4 linked regions of the Homo sapiens genome follow. Changing the gene in region 1 together with any one later gene gives a genetic interaction. Each region holds a gene or a part of one and is shown on either strand. Other genes may lie near its edges.

What was found.
Region 2: changes in RPS19 (region 1) and RIT1 together harm fitness more than expected from each alone (negative genetic interaction), as found in Homo sapiens cells (one large-scale study listed by BioGRID).
Region 3: changes in RPS19 (region 1) and KRAS impair growth when combined (synthetic growth defect), as found in Homo sapiens cells (2 studies listed by BioGRID, with this or other methods).
Region 4: changes in RPS19 (region 1) and RABGGTB are lethal when combined (synthetic lethality), as found in Homo sapiens cells (one large-scale study listed by BioGRID).

Annotation. Positions count from the first base shown.
Region 1 is NC_000019.10:41,862,705-41,867,661, reverse strand, and holds part of RPS19 (small ribosomal subunit protein eS19), read right to left. Parts: intron 1-4,957. UniProt on the Homo sapiens protein: Component of the small ribosomal subunit. The ribosome is a large ribonucleoprotein complex responsible for the synthesis of proteins in the cell. Required for pre-rRNA processing and maturation of 40S ribosomal subunits.
Region 2 is NC_000001.11:155,897,308-155,901,349, reverse strand, and holds the end of RIT1 (GTP-binding protein Rit1), read left to right. Parts: intron 1-731; coding exon 732-962; 3' UTR 963-3,542; downstream 3,543-4,042.
Region 3 is NC_000012.12:25,223,430-25,226,929, forward strand, and holds part of KRAS (GTPase KRas), read right to left. Parts: intron 2,345-3,500; coding exon 2,185-2,344; intron 1-2,184. UniProt on the Homo sapiens protein: Ras proteins bind GDP/GTP and possess intrinsic GTPase activity. Plays an important role in the regulation of cell proliferation.
Region 4 is NC_000001.11:75,789,256-75,792,420, reverse strand, and holds part of RABGGTB (geranylgeranyl transferase type-2 subunit beta), read right to left. Parts: coding exon 3,065-3,165; intron 2,945-3,064; exon of another isoform or gene 2,874-2,944; intron 2,470-2,873; coding exon 2,364-2,469; intron 2,270-2,363; exon of another isoform or gene 2,147-2,269; intron 1,976-2,146; exon of another isoform or gene 1,904-1,975; intron 1,137-1,903; coding exon 1,084-1,136; intron 961-1,083; coding exon 850-960; intron 241-849; coding exon 115-240; intron 1-114. UniProt on the Homo sapiens protein: Catalyzes the transfer of a geranylgeranyl moiety from geranylgeranyl diphosphate to both cysteines of Rab proteins with the C-terminal sequence -XXCC, -XCXC and -CCXX, such as RAB1A, RAB3A, RAB5A and RAB7A.

The DNA of each region.
Region 1 (4,957 bases):
CTGTATTAATCTATAAGTAATCTACAGATGATTTAAAATATATGGGATCAGGCCGGGCGCAGTGGCTCACGCCTGTAATCCCACCACTTTGGGAGGCTGAGGCGGGAGAATCACCTGAGGTCAGGAGTTTGAGACCAGCCTGGCCAACATGGTGAAACCCCATCTCTACTGAAATTACAAGAAAATTAGCCAGGTGTGGTGGCACACCCGCTGTAACCCCAGCTACCTGGGAGGCTGAGGCAGGGCAGGAGAATCACTTGAACCTGGGAGGCAGAGGTTGCAGTTAGCCAAGATCATGCCACTGCACTCCAGACTGGGTGACAGAGTGAGACTCTGTCTCAAAAGTAAAACATCTACATAGGATATATGCAAATATTATACTTTTTTTTTTTTTTGGAGACAGGGCATCATTCTGTCACCCAGGCTGGAGTGCAGTGGTAACAGCTCACTGCAGCTTTGACCTCCTGAATAGTTGGGACTACAGGTGCAAGCCACCACGCCCAGATAATTTCTGAAGAGACCCGGTTTTGCCATGTTGCTCTGGCTGAACTCCTGGAGTGAAGTGAACCACCCATCTTGGCCTCCCAAAGTGCTGGGATTACAGGTGTGTGCCACTGTGCTGGCCCCGATATTTTTTTTTTCTGAGATGGAGTCTCTCGCTCTGTCGCCCAGGCTGGAGTGCAGTGGCGCAATCTCGGTTCACTGCAAGCTCTGCCTTCCGGGTTCACTCCATTCTCCTGCCTCAGCCTCCAGAGTAGCTGGGACTACAGGGGCCCGCCACCACGCCTGGCTAATTTTTTTGTATTTTTAGTAGAGACGGGGTTTCACCGTGTTAGCGAGGATGGTCTCAATCTCCTGACCTCGTAATCCACCTGCCTTGGCCTCCCAAAGTGCTGGGATTACAGGGTTGAGCCACCGCACCCGGCCCCTGGCCCCGATATTACACCATTTTATAGTAAGGGTGAGCATCTGTGGACTTGGGTATTGGGGTTCATCCTGGAACCAATCCTCAGCTGATACTATACAACCATGCTCTGCTGGGGGCCAAGAGCACAGCCCTGCTGTTGGCTCACTACCTCTGGCATCTGCTCACTTTAAAATCCCCACCTCACTCCAGGCCCTACCCCCTACGCCACTGCCTGGTAATAAGTGCCCATAACCAGGACCAATAGACAGACTCACCTGGCGTAAGCCACCCCCCACAATCCTGCCAGAGAGTGACATCACTGGAAACCTCCACCCTTTCAGACCAGCTCAAATACCCAGCAGCTGCTGCCATCCCTCTGGGCCCTGTAGCTGGTTGTGCCCTGGGGCTCTGGGTGGAGACCTGCTCTCCCATTTGAACTACAGTACCCAGGACTGGGGAACGCAGAATAGCTTTTCCTGTTATCCTGCTTTATTTTTTTTTTGAGACGGAGTCTTTCTCTGTTGCCTAGGTTGGAGTGCAGTGGTGCCATCTGGGCTCACTGCTAGCTCCGCCTCCCAGGTTCAAGCAATTCTCCTGTCTCAGCCTCCCGAGTAGCTGGGACTACAGGCACACGCCACCACACCTGGCTAATGTTTTGTATTTTTAGTAGAGATGGGGTTTCACCATGCTGGCCAGGCTGGTCTCAAACTCCTGACCTCCTGATCCGCCCGCCTCGGCCTCCCAAAGTGCTGGGATTACAGGCATGAGCCACCGCGCCCGGCCTTTTTTTTTTTTTTTTTTTTTTAAAGACGGAGTCTCACTCTGTCGCCCAGGCTGGAGTGCAGTGGCGTGATCTCAGCTCACTGCAAGCTCCGCCTCCCGGGTTCATGCTATTCTCCTGCCTCAGCCTCTACAGTAACTGGGACTACAGGCGCCCGCCACCACGCCCGGCTAATTTTTTCGTATTTTTAGTAGACATGGGGTTTCACCATGTTAGCCAGGATGGTCTCGATCTCTTGACCTCATGATCCGCCCGCCTCGGCCTCCGAAAGTGCTGGGATTACAGGTGTGAGCCACCGCGCCGGGCCTCTGTTATCTTGCTTTTTAAGAATAAGGCACACACTCCTAAGCGCAGAGATGCCCAAAGCGGCTGTACACCAGAAATGGGACACTCAACCTCAGTCTTGTTGGGTTGGGACTAGCGCCCAGAGCAGTCAGACAGGAGCTTGAATCCTGACACCGTTCCTCCTCAGGAGGGACACAGGACCCACCTATCCTCCAGGTGGTTTGTGCTGCGGTACTAAAGGAGACACTTTACTTAAACCTTGAGCACAGTGACTGGTAGAGAACAAGCTCCCATAAGGCCTATTAGGTGCTTTTTTTTTTTTTTTGAGACAGTCTCACTCTGTTGCCCAGGCTGGAGTGCAGTGGCGTGATCTCAGACTCACTGCAACCTCTGCCTCCGGGGTTCAAGCAATTCTTCTGTCTCAGCCTCCCCAGTAGCTGGGACTACAGGCGCCTGCTACCACGCCTGGCTAATTTTTATTTTTAGTAGAGACGGGGTTTCACCACATTGGTCAGGATGGTCTCAAACTCTTGACCTCAGGTGATCCGCCTGCCTTGGCCTCCCAAAGGCCTATTAGGTTCTTCAATGGAGGCTTAAATTTTTCTTAAGGCTGTATAAAAACCTTTTGGCATGGAGAACCTTGGTCAGATATTACAAGCTCCTCCCTTGCTATCCCAGTTCATGCTAATTATTTTTTTCTGACCCACTAGAAGGGAGAGGAAGGGTTATTAACTTCACAAATTGGAAAATGCTAAGAGTTGAAATACCGCGTTCTATTAAAACACTGACCTTTTTCCTCACCCCCTGGAGACCAAGGTTCCAGCCCCAGCTTTTGATGTGGAGCTGCACAAATGCAGACCGCCGTAGCTGGTACTCATGAGGGCCAATTGCGAGCAAGTTGCTGTCACAAATGGGTTCTCCTCCAGTTCCTCCATGCTAGAGGCCTTCTGCTCCTCTGCTGTGTGCATTCTTGGGATGGCAACCCACTCCTCTCAGGAACCCCTGTCCAGGAATCACCCCCTACCTGGAACTGTAAAGGAGGCCACCCCTCTCCACTCTACTGTGAGTTCATGGTCAAGGGAGGGCAGCTGTGTTCCTGCTAGACCGAGAGGGAGGGTCCCTCTGGATCTGAGCACGGGGCAGACCAACCAAGCACGGCTCCTTAGGAGTCATCACAGCTCAGCAAAGTCCAGACCGGTGGTCCCATCCTGACCTACTGAGTCAAAGGCAGGGAAGAACTTCCCCAGCACACTCTAGCTGACCCTTCTCTGCCGAACTTGTAAGAAACCACTCTCCTGACCTTGATTCATCCCTTAACTCACTTCTGTGATGCCTCCCAGATCTCATTCTTTCTACTATCATAGCACAAGTGGGTGCCCAGCCCCATGCAGGAGCCAGAGATGGAGCAGCCTCCAACCTACAAGAAGTGTTTCCAGACATCCCAATTCAGCAGCTGCTCTCAGACGCACACCAGGACACCAAACTGGACTCCCACATCTCCATCTTCAGCAGGTCCTTTAAAGAATTAAGACAGCAAGAGGCTTGTCCAGCTGGGTGCGGGAGCTCATGCCTGTAATCCCAGCACTTTGGGAGGCCGAGGCGGGCGGATCACGAGGTCAAGAGATCGAGAGCATCCCAGCCAACATGGTGAAAACCCGTCTCTACTAAAAATAGAAAAATTAGCTGGGCGTGGTGGCGGGCACCTGTAGTCCCAGGTACTTGGGAGGCTGAGGTAGGAGAATTGCTTGAACCCGGCAGGCAGAGGTTGCAGTTAGCCGAGACGGCACCAGTGTACTCCAGCCTGGTGACAGTGCAACTCTGTTTAAAAAAAAAAAAAAAAAAAAAAGCCTGTCCGGGGCTACACTGCACCACCCCCTTCATAAAGACCCATGGCGGCCATCCCTTGAACGTCCAGTGAGAGCAAGTCTTTGCGGGTTCTTCCTCTACCTTGCCCTGCCTCCTACACCACTGCCTTGGGACTGCTTACTCCTACAGCTCTGCTCCATTTCCAGACCACCCTCAAGAGGGCCCCATCTTCTACCATGGGCCTCTTTACCCCCAAACCCCAGGATTAAGACCTGTCTACCTCACACTCATTCCTATAGGTCTCCACAATTTGGCCCTGCTCAGCAAGGGCGCTGCTTTAGCACACTTTAGCCTCAAATCTGAGGAGGCAAAATAGGCCAGACTCTTATGAGTAGAAAAAAGGGAATATAGCAGGGAACCTAGTTTTGGACAGAGCCACCCTGCCAAGCCCTCCCAGGGTAACTTGCAGCAAGTCCCTTCGCCCGTCTGCACCACAGCTTCCTCTTTGGTAAAACAAGATCACTCCCATGATCAGTATAAGCTGACTGCCAAACTGGGTGGAACATGTTAAACTCTAGAATAGAGGCTGGTCAACTTTGCCTGTAATCCCAGTGCTTTGGAAGGCTGAGGCGGGAGGACCGCTTGAGCTTGGGAGTTCAACATAGTGAGACTCCATCTCTACAAATAAAAAAAATTAGCTAGGCATGGTGACTGATAGGCACCTGTAGTCCCAGCTACTTAGGAGGGTGGGGCAGGAGGATCACTTGAGCCCAAGAAGCTGCAGTGAGCTATAATTGTGCCACTGCACTCCAACCTGGGTGACAGGCCTAGACCCTGTCCCTGAAAATAAATAATAAAGGGTCAGGTAGGAAATATTTCAGGCTTTGTAGGCTACAGCTTCTGCCACAACTACAACTCTGCCCTTGTGCATGTAGATACACAGGGGTGGCTATAACCCAACAAAAATATACACAACAGGCCTCTGGTCTACCACACAACCATCCTATGCCGCTAGGACAGCTGGGCAAGTGAGGTGAAAAAGAGGCCTTTGGGGTACTCCAAGTGATGGAGATCAGTAGGCAGGCAGAAGATGCACATCCTGCTTGAGGTTTCCAGGCAGGGCCACTGTGGGCTGCAAGGGACCACAGCAGCTCTACCATGACCAGCAGATGCAACTA
Region 2 (4,042 bases), on another chromosome or scaffold:
TTTTAAAAATTTTGTAAAAGTAGGGTCTCACCATATTGCCCAGCTTGGTCTCAAGTTCCTGGGCTCAAGCAATCCTCCTACCTTAGCCTCCCAAAGTTCTGGAATTACAGGTGTGAGCCACCAAGCCCAGCCTATTTATCTTTCTTAAAATAAAAAGTATGGGGAAAATTAAGATTGTGTATTTGATATCTAAAACTATTCCCTGTTCCAAAAAGTATCTTAAAAATAGACTAGAGACCGGGCACAGTGGCCGACGCCTGTAATCCCAGTACTTTGGGAGGCCGAGGTGGGCAGATCACCTGAGGTCAGGAGTTTACAACCAGCCTGACCAACATGGAGAAACCCCGTCTCTACTAAAAATACAAAATTAGCCAGGTGTGGTGGCGCATGCCTGTAATCTCAGCTACTCAGGAGGCTGAGGCAGGAGAATCACTTGAACCCGGGAGGCCGAGGTTGTGAGCCACAATCATGCCATTGCACTCCAATCTGGGCAACAAGAACGCAACTCTGTCTCAAAAAAAAAAGTAGACTAGAAATAGAATCATATCATTTGAAGGCAGAATAAGAAACCTTAGAAGTAATCTAGCCTAAAATTACAAAAATTAGTGCTGTATGCTTGAACACCTCCAGAATTGAGAAGCTTTCTTTGTGTTAAGGTGGTGGTGCATTCAGGTTTTTGGACAATTTAATTGTTTTTCACTGTTATCTTTTCTCACATTTTGCCCTTAAAGGTCACCAAGGAAGAAGGATTGGCCTTGGCCCGAGAATTCAGCTGTCCCTTTTTTGAGACATCTGCTGCATACCGCTACTATATTGATGATGTTTTCCATGCCCTTGTACGGGAGATACGTAGGAAAGAAAAGGAGGCAGTACTGGCCATGGAGAAAAAATCTAAGCCCAAAAACAGTGTATGGAAGAGGCTAAAATCACCATTCCGGAAGAAGAAAGATTCAGTAACTTGAAGAGAAGATGTGAAGTGTTTATCTGTGAACTGCAGTGCTGTATCAAAGCAGTCCAGTAACCTGCAGTACTGAGTATGGTGCTTGCTCTTTCACTTAACTGATAAGAGGGACATGCCTACTAGGAGTTTTTAATGATGTGGTATTTAAAGTATTGTCTCTTAGTTAAGTATGATTTATTAACCCAGTGGAGCACTGTCTGCTTTTAAATTGTCACATTAGAATTTGTTCTACCAATGTTTTGGGTTCTGTTGCGCTATTAATTAATGTAAATTTGTTTATACCCAGGAGAATATGTATACCATGTGTGTTTGACTAAGTTCACAAGGGAAGTTTTTGGCTCTGCACTCCACATTATCCTTTAATTTCAATTTCCTGGGACTATCCCAGAGAAAGACCTCAGTCTCTTCTATTCACACTATGCTTCCTAGAGACAGAACAAAAATCATGTAGGGAAATTGGGGCTAATGAGATCAGTGCCAAATTTCAGCAGATACCTGTGAGGCTGACACCTGTTGCAGACTATGGAGTGGTGAGATTTGGGAAAGTTGGGCTATATGTTTGCAGGGACTTAAAAAGGTAGGTTCAGAACAGTATTCTCAGTACAAGCTTCGCTTTTCTAAGAAGTACACATTTGGCCCAAATTCACCGGGATAAGTGAGAACAGCCAGAAGCATAAAATGTGATGAAGGTTTCTCCTGGGAACCTTATTTTACTCTTCATTTCAGGGTTTTCTTTTTTTTTTTACCTTCAAAGGTAGACATTTTGGGAATCATAACTGTATTACTAAACGTGTTTAATCAAAATTCATAGTTGGATCAGCCATTGCCTTGTACAGGTTTATTTTTTCCCCACAGACGCACACACCAACACATTTATATTCATTGCTTCCTCCCACTTTGTGCTCTGTAAAAGAGCTACAGCTGGCAAGATGTTTTTTCGGCCCTTCATCACTGATTGCATTTTCCATACAGAAGAGACATCAGGGGTGTGGGTAAAATTGTGTGTGTGCCTCCTTGACGTGGACAATCACTAGACTCAGTGCTCTGAGAAAATCTGCTATTTCTGTTGAATGGGTCAGTCTTAAAGCTTTAAAATTCACATAGGTGGAGTTTCCCATCTGAAGATTTCTTTACAAGGACTTTGCTAAGTTCATCTCAGGGTTATCTGAGCCTTGACCAAGTTTATCCTAAGGGAATACCACTTTGCTCCCTGTGCATAGTTTAGGAACTGTAGTCCTAGGAGGAAACAGCTTTAAATATTGGTAGTGAGTTGTCTAAGATCAGGACTGTTTTGATATCTGACCTTGTTATATGCGGAGAGTAAATGCAAAAATGCTAAGAGTAATGCATCATGTATTGAATATTAAGTGTCACTGAAGCAATGTTTGTGTTGACTAGAAACGTAAGATGACTTGTGTAGCACCTCTTTATAAGCACACAGCTCATCTTAATATTTTCCATTTTTATTAGAGGAAGTAGGACAGAGTTGTGTTTTTCTTTATAAACAAATGATAAACTAGCTTTTTTAAAAAGTGACTGTTAGAACTTTTTTAGCTCTGAGTAGTGGTCCCTTTTTAAACTCCTGGAAACATTTTTGTTACCAAATAAATCATGTTTTATGGTACTCAGCCATCCAAAAGTGAAAGACCTAGCATTTGATTCTGTGCAGGACACAAATCTCACAGGAACTATAGCACTTTGGAAAAGCATCAAAGTAGAAAAGAAATACAGTGCAATTCTATTATGAGAATGTTTTACATTTAAACTGGTTTAGCACCTTTTAAGTTTAAAGCCCATAGCTTCTTATTACTAGTGACCTAGGGAATTGTTATTAACATTAAGAGATATATATATATATATATATATATATTTTTTTTTTTTTTTTTTTTTTTTTTTAAATAGAGATGAGGTTTCACTATGTTGCCCAGGCTGATCTCGAACTCCTAGGCTCAAGCAATCCTCCCAATATGCTGGGATTACAGGCATGAGCCACCACCTGGCCCAAGCAAGAAATTGACACTATATAGTTATTTAAGGTAGTCAGGCAGTAGAAACATTGCCAGAAGGATAGAAAGGAATTTGGATTATATATAAGGAAAATAACAAATCGGTGTTTTTAAGACTATCACTGTCATATATTAGATCCTTGTATTAGTCCATCCATTAATATTAGTTCTATTCGTGGTGCTAGGTAGCTTGACAGGTATGATATGCATAAGTCATAGCTCTATTCTTAGTGTCATAAAGTGTAGCTAATTTATAAGCTCTAAGTAATCAGCTTTATCTAATTTGAGGGCATTAAAATTACTGCCTAGAACTTTGAGAAGAGAAAAATTCAGGGATAAGTTGAAAGGCACTGGAACTGTTCATGTCCATACCAGACCGGTAAATTATAAGATCCAGATGTTAGTGTCTAGAATTAGCTGTTTAGAATTCAGAGGGGACATATGTTTTAACTTTGTCATATATTAGCAAGAATTGGTCTACTGTGATGTTTGGGGAGGAGGAGGGGGGGATAATTTTTTTAATGCACTTGTATGTGAAGACAGTTTGTATGACATAATACAAAACTTTTAAACAACTTGGGCTTTCCTTTGCTTCCCTATCAGTGGGTAGAGTTTTTGGAATCATTGCAAAAGAGTTGTTTTCAGAAAAACATAACCATGAGATGTGATATTCTGGAAAATATGAATTCAAAAAATTTGAGTGCCCACCATGAACAAGACACCCATGTCAAGTGCTAGGGAGCATGCCATGGAATCCCCCTTCATTTGAAGAGATTACCTCTTGGGAGGAGACAGGAAAAACACATATGGAAAATGACAGCACATTTGCTACCTGATCAAGGGTTACTTAAAGTTGTTATAAGTAAATACACTAAATGAAAAGTGAAAGAATGATTTTTTTTTTTTTTTTTTTTTTGAGACAGAATCTCGCTCTGTCGCCCAGGCTGGAGTACAGTGGCGCGATTTCGGCTCACGGCAAGCTCCGCCTCCTGGGTTCACGCCATTCTCCTGCCTCAACCTCCCAAGTAGCTGGGACTACAGGCGCCCGCCACCACACCTGGCTAATTTTTTGTAT
Region 3 (3,500 bases), on another chromosome or scaffold:
TTCCTGGTCTTTGGAACCTGGAAATGGATTTATGTGAAATCTTAATTCCTCTAAAGTAAAGTGATATATGATATACACCAAGTTTAACCTATAAATCAGGTTTTAGTAAAATTGCCAGATAAATCTGTACAATGGTCAAACTAGAGAAATTCAGTTTTTAATCCTCCCAAAATGACTTGAAGTAGAATTTACTGTTTCTTTACTATATATCAAATTTGTATAACTAGGAAGAGGTACATATGCTCTCCTACTAGGGAAATACAACATATATATTAGCTGGATAATGATTTACATTTACATTTTTGCACCTTTATGAAATTTGATAAACTTCTAGAACGCTTGTTTTTAAATGTTTAACAATGTAAAAGTTGTTCAGCAATTTTTTTTAACTCCTAGCATTACAGAAGTTAATTTCTACAAAACTGGTTTTCTGGGCTCACAGGTAAATGTAACCAGAAAAAGCCCTAAACAAATTGATGGAATATAGATGGATCAATTTCTTAGTACAGTCATGTACCACATAATGACATTTTGGTCCACAGGAGATTGCATATGTGATAGTGGTCCCATAAGATTATAATGGAGTTTAAAAGTTCCTATTGCTTAGTGATGTTATAGCCATCCTAACACTGTAGTACGACACATTGCTCACGTGTTTGTGGTGATGCTGGTGTAAACAAACCTACTGCACTGTCAGTTGTATAATGGTATAGCACCTATATTGTTATTTTATAGTGTACTCCTCCTATTTACTAAAAAAAAAAAAAAAAAAAAAAAAAAGTTAACTATAAACAGCCTTGGATAGGTCCTTCAGGAGGTATTCCAAAAGAAGGCAATGTTATTATAGGAGATGACAGCTCCACGTGTGTTACTGCCCCTGAAGATCTTCCAGTGGGACAAGATGTGGAAGTGGAAGACAATGATATTGATGGTCCTGACCCTGTGTAGGCCTAGGTTAATGTGCATGCATGTCTTAGTTTTTAACAAAAAAGTTTAATAAGTAAAAACAAACAAAAAATTTTAAATATGGAAAAAAGCTTACAGAATAAAGATATAAGGAAAGAAAAATTTGTATAGCTGTATAATGTGTGTTTTAAGCTGTATTACAAAAGTCAAAATGTTAGGAAAAATTAAAAAGTTTAAAAAGTTACAGTAAAGTAAGGTTAATTTATTATTGAACAGAAATTTAAAAAAATATATAAACTTAGGGTAGCCCAAGTGTAGGTTTAGACACACAAAACTTACCATTGTGTTAACAATTGCCTTATAGTCATTAGTACAGTTACATACTGTACAGGTTTGTATCCCTGGGGCAAGAGACTATACTACATATCCCAGGTGTATAGTAGGTTATACTACCAAGGTTTGTGTAAGTATATTCTATGATGTTTGCACAATGACAAAATCACCTAACAATGTATTTCTTAGAAAGTATCCCTGTCATTAAGAGACATATGACTACATATAACAATTAATTCCTTCCTATCTTTATGTATTCATTTCCTATATGTTAAACTCTTCATACAAACAGGTTAAATAATAGCAACTGAAATTATTTTATTTTACCTGAAGAAAAAGTCATTTTTAAAACAAAGATGATTTTTGAAACAAAATTCAGGTTCTCTCTGGCAATAATTTTTGTCAGAAAAATGCATTAAATGAGTAACAGAATTTCTGTTGGCTTTCTGGGTATTGTCTTTCTTTAATGAGACCTTTCTCCAGAAATAAACACATCCTCAAAAAAATTCTGCCAAAGTAAAATTCTTCAAATACAACAACGTTTAACCTAGAAACATGACATAATGGTTTAAAAGTACTACCGAAATAGAAAACGCAAAAATTTGTTGCCCTGTTCTTTATATATATATATATATATATATATATATATATATATATATATATATATGTAACCATGGGAAAAAAAAATCCCCACCTCTTGAATTCTAAATGTTAACATGTGCTCAGAATTGAAGAGAAATTTTCAATGTAGAAAGAAACCAAAGCCAAAAGCAGTACCATGGACACTGGATTAAGAAGCAATGCCCTCTCAAGAGACAAAAACATTTACTAAATATTGTTTTATTTCCTAGTATAGCATAATTGAGAGAAAAACTGATATATTAAATGACATAACAGTTATGATTTTGCAGAAAACAGATCTGTATTTATTTCAGTGTTACTTACCTGTCTTGTCTTTGCTGATGTTTCAATAAAAGGAATTCCATAACTTCTTGCTAAGTCCTGAGCCTGTTTTGTGTCTACTGTTCTAGAAGGCAAATCACATTTATTTCCTACTAGGACCATAGGTACATCTTCAGAGTCCTTAACTCTTTTAATTTGTTCTCTGGGAAAGAAAAAAAAGTTATAGCACAGTCATTAGTAACACAAATATCTTTCAAAACCTGTCCACAACTTTTGTCATAAAATTTGGCTGAAAGAAAACAATGTAATTCCTAGTTTCCACTACACCAAATTTTCCTTCCTTCTTCTACTAGTTATTTTGTTTCTTTACCTTTTTAAACAGAAACCTTGTATCTCTCTCAAAAGATCAAATACCTAGAAGTATAGTAAAACTATAACCTAATAGGTTAATATGCAGGTAGATCATAATAGTAAAACAGAAACTACTGAAAAATTCTAGACCCAAAGTGCTATATAACAGACTATAATTTTAGAAACGTATGTTAAATGTGTAAAGATAAAAAATATTTTACAAAAACCTGAATTAAAGCATTAACATAATTTTCATATTACTTTTTCAAAAAACAAAGTGGACAACTAGAAAGATTTTGATTTCTAGGTAGGCAACACTGAAGTTACTACACCACTTATTCCATTAAAAGCCCTTCTACATGTTAATCATTTTCAATATAACAAGTGCATAAACTCTAAATTTGGGGTGAAATTACATTCCCTCACAATTTTAGGTGACTTTCAAAGACACAGCACAAAAGAAGGAGCAGAGCAGACAACAGAGTCAGAATTGGCTCAAATTCCCGGTTCCGAACACCATTAGCTGGGTAAACTTGGATAATAGAGCTGAAATTTGGTAACTCCTCTATAAAAATACTACCACTACCACCCACCCAAATGTCTTTTCCTCTATTACTAGACTATACAGTAAACATGCTGTAACAATGTTCTTAAATAAAATGTTAAACTTCTTATAACTAGGCTAACTCGTTATTATATGACATAGCCACTGAGTGATTCATTTGCTTAATATGTAGTTTTTGGAAAACTAAACCCTCAAAGAAATAGAATATAAAATAGTATAATAATGATTATTTTAATAGTTTTATGCAGCTTTGTCAGATTTAAGAGAACTGTAATGCCCAAATTCTTCAATCTTTCAAAACTTTTATTTTTTAAAATATATAATGCCACTGTTTATCCAATCCAAGCAATTCTATGCTATACACACGATTGCTTTTAAGACTGTTAAAGTGACACCATCTCAAATCATCTTTTCATATTCTTTTTTATGGTTTTCTTTTTTA
Region 4 (3,165 bases), on another chromosome or scaffold:
GGAAAGGTAATAAATAAGCTCATGGCCAATTTACAATATAGAAACAGGCAAGACAAAGCAGCAGCATTCACTCAAGGTTCTAAAGCTAGCAGAATATGGCTTATCAAACAATACCTTCTCCGGCCTTCCATTGAGCCCGCCTGAGGGTAATTGTCGTTCACAAAGCCACCAGCCAAGTAAATCAGAATTTACTTGATGCAACTGACTTGTAATTGCCAGAAATCCTGTGCAACAATAGATCTAAAATTACAGACATAAAGTTTATGTGTATAATAATTTCTTGACATTAAAAGTGATAAAACTCAAATTATTAAAACACCACTTTATATCTTAAGTTTTTCTTCTTGATCTGACACTTAAAATTCCAAACATGTATTAATACCACATATCTGAAAAAATCCAAGCATACTATTACTAGTATGCAATTCTGCACTGAAATATTATTGTCAAAATTTCTTCATGGCTAGTATTTCACAGCCATCCATTCACATATTCAGTGTTCTCTGGCACAAGAAAAGAGGTTCATAATTTATCTTAGGAAAGAAAGAAAAATGTGTTGTTTTTTTTTTTATCTGTATGGTTAGTGAAAAATTAATGGAAAACAAAAGTGTTTTGGTGCTTATAAACCCACTTATGTTTGCTTAGGTCAGACGAATCCACCGACAGAGAAAGGTATATAGTATATAAAGCAAAGTAATGATAGCAATTAAGCAATTCTTATGTAAGATGCCCTATTACAGTCGAATTAACTTTATGTGTATTTGACAAACACTGAAATAACCAATTTTCTTATTTTACTACACTGGCTTCCAAAATGACAATACATTTTCATCTGTATTCATAAATTACCTGCCCAGCATGGGATTCAGAACCTGGTCTGCAACCAAATCCACCGTCAAAGTTCATACAGGATAAAACAAATTCGATTGCCTTTTCCACATTAATAGCATCAAGCTTCCCCTACAAACAAAAAAAAAGATGCCTGTTAAATTCCAGAGTATTCAGCAGATCAGACTCAAAAAAAAAAAAAATTCCAGAGTATTCATGAACTTTAATCATTTCAATCAAATATTCAAAGCTTACCAACAAAGCCAAAGTTGCCACCGCACAAAAAGAGAATCTTGTGTCAATTTCTCCTACAATAAAAATAGATCAAATCAAGGCAGGTGTTACCAAATCATACATGAGTCATCTAAAAACAAACACTGCACAACTACCACTTTAAATTGAGTTCAAGCTTAACTTTCACTTTAGGGTAGTCAGGAGGAAAGCTAAATCTGAAGTGCCTTTACTTCCCAAGAAAATTCCTTTGTCAAAAATAACAGCAAATTGACCAGGCACAGTAGCTCTTGCCTATAATTCCAACATTTTGGGAGGCTGAGGTGGGAGAATCACTTGAGCCTAGGAGTTTGAGACTAGCCGAGGCAACATAATGGGACCCCATCTCTACAAAAAACTTTTTAAAAAAAATTAGGTGGGGCTGGGCATTGTGGCTCAGGCCTGAAATCCCAGCACTTTTGGTGGCCGAGGCAGGAGGATCACATGAGGCCAGGGGACCCCATCTCTACTAAAAACACAAAAACCAGCCAGGTGTTGTGGTGCACATCTCAGCTACTCTGTAAGCTGAGGCAGGAGAATTGCTTGAGCTTGGGAGGTGGAGGTTGCAGTGAGCCAAGATTGCACCACTGCACTCCAGCCTGGGCAACAGAGCTCTCCAGCCCCAGCAACTGTCTCCCAAAATACTGCACTCCAACCTGGACAGAGCCAAGACCCTGCCACAAAAAAGTAACAGCAAATTATCTTAAGCTGCTTAAAGAAAGCCCAGAAAGAGAAGAAAACCAAAGAGAAGAAAACTAATAGAACCCAAAGTATTAGTCCATTTCTAATAATGAAATAAACTTACCCTACTTTATAAAAGTAGATTTTTCACATCCCATGAAGCAGCTGGTCTCTCTGGCCTGCACTGTGTTCATCCCTAAAGCAGAGATTATCTACGTTTATCAAATAAAATTCTATTCCCTCCCTCCACTCAAATATTCAGCAAGTTTGTAAAGTTTTTTTTTTTAAATATTTTTCCCTTTCCAGCAAGTAGTTTTTAAAAAACTTTACAAAGCCACCAAATATTGGGGAAAAAAATTCCACCTACCTTATCTTTTAGACTGGCCCCCTCTGTTCCAGTGCTCCTGTATATGCTGATATAACTACCACAGTGCATGCTGGAAGTTCCAGCAGACCATTAACTCCAGTTAGACCAGCTGCTTAGTGGGACCTGAAAAGATGAAAAACTTATAAACTGGTTACTAGCAAAACCAGTACATTTTAATATTGGTATTTTGGGTAGAATGGACTAAATCTGACATTACCCCAAATATCTCCAGCAAAAGAACCATCTTCTTTCTGTAGACCTTTAACATATTCCACAACTTTATTTACGTCAATAACATTAATACTGTCATACAGCGTAAGAATCTGCAATAAAGACAAGTATTAGGTAAATGTCCCTTTCAGGTTTATTCTAATGATCTTATGCTCAACTCTTTTTAAGTTGTCAAGCACATCCTTTTGTCTCTGTGTATATAACCTTTTCTCAAATATGCAGACTCTCCTGTTATTGAATAAAATTAGATAGTATCAAGAAAACTCAAATCTTTAAAGTATAATTTTCTACATATAAATTTTAACTTGGCATTCCAAGATACTCAAGTATACTAACTCACATCCACACAAAGTCCTGATCTTCCCATCTCAGCACCCAGTAGTACCAGAAAGACTTTAAACCACCAGGTAGATGTTCACTAATATCAAAATCAAATAGCTCCATTTAGCTATTTTACAGTATTTACACATACTGAAGATAAAAATTTTACCCTCCAAGGTCTCAGTGTAATTTTAGAACTCACATCAACTTTAGATTCAGCTAATACATGCCATTACATCATTGACCTTGTAGGACAGCTTCACTTGTAACAAAACTTTTTGACCAAATCCTGATACAGTTTCAATTTCCAACTCTGAAGTAAGAGAACATACTATCAAGATCGTTGCAATTTTGATTAGTATTTACCTGGACAGCACTAAGAGTGTATAAAAGATGAGGATCATGTCCGATACTAGCACTTATTCCACCACATTCATGTTGGCAAGACTTAATAAATGCCAGAATCT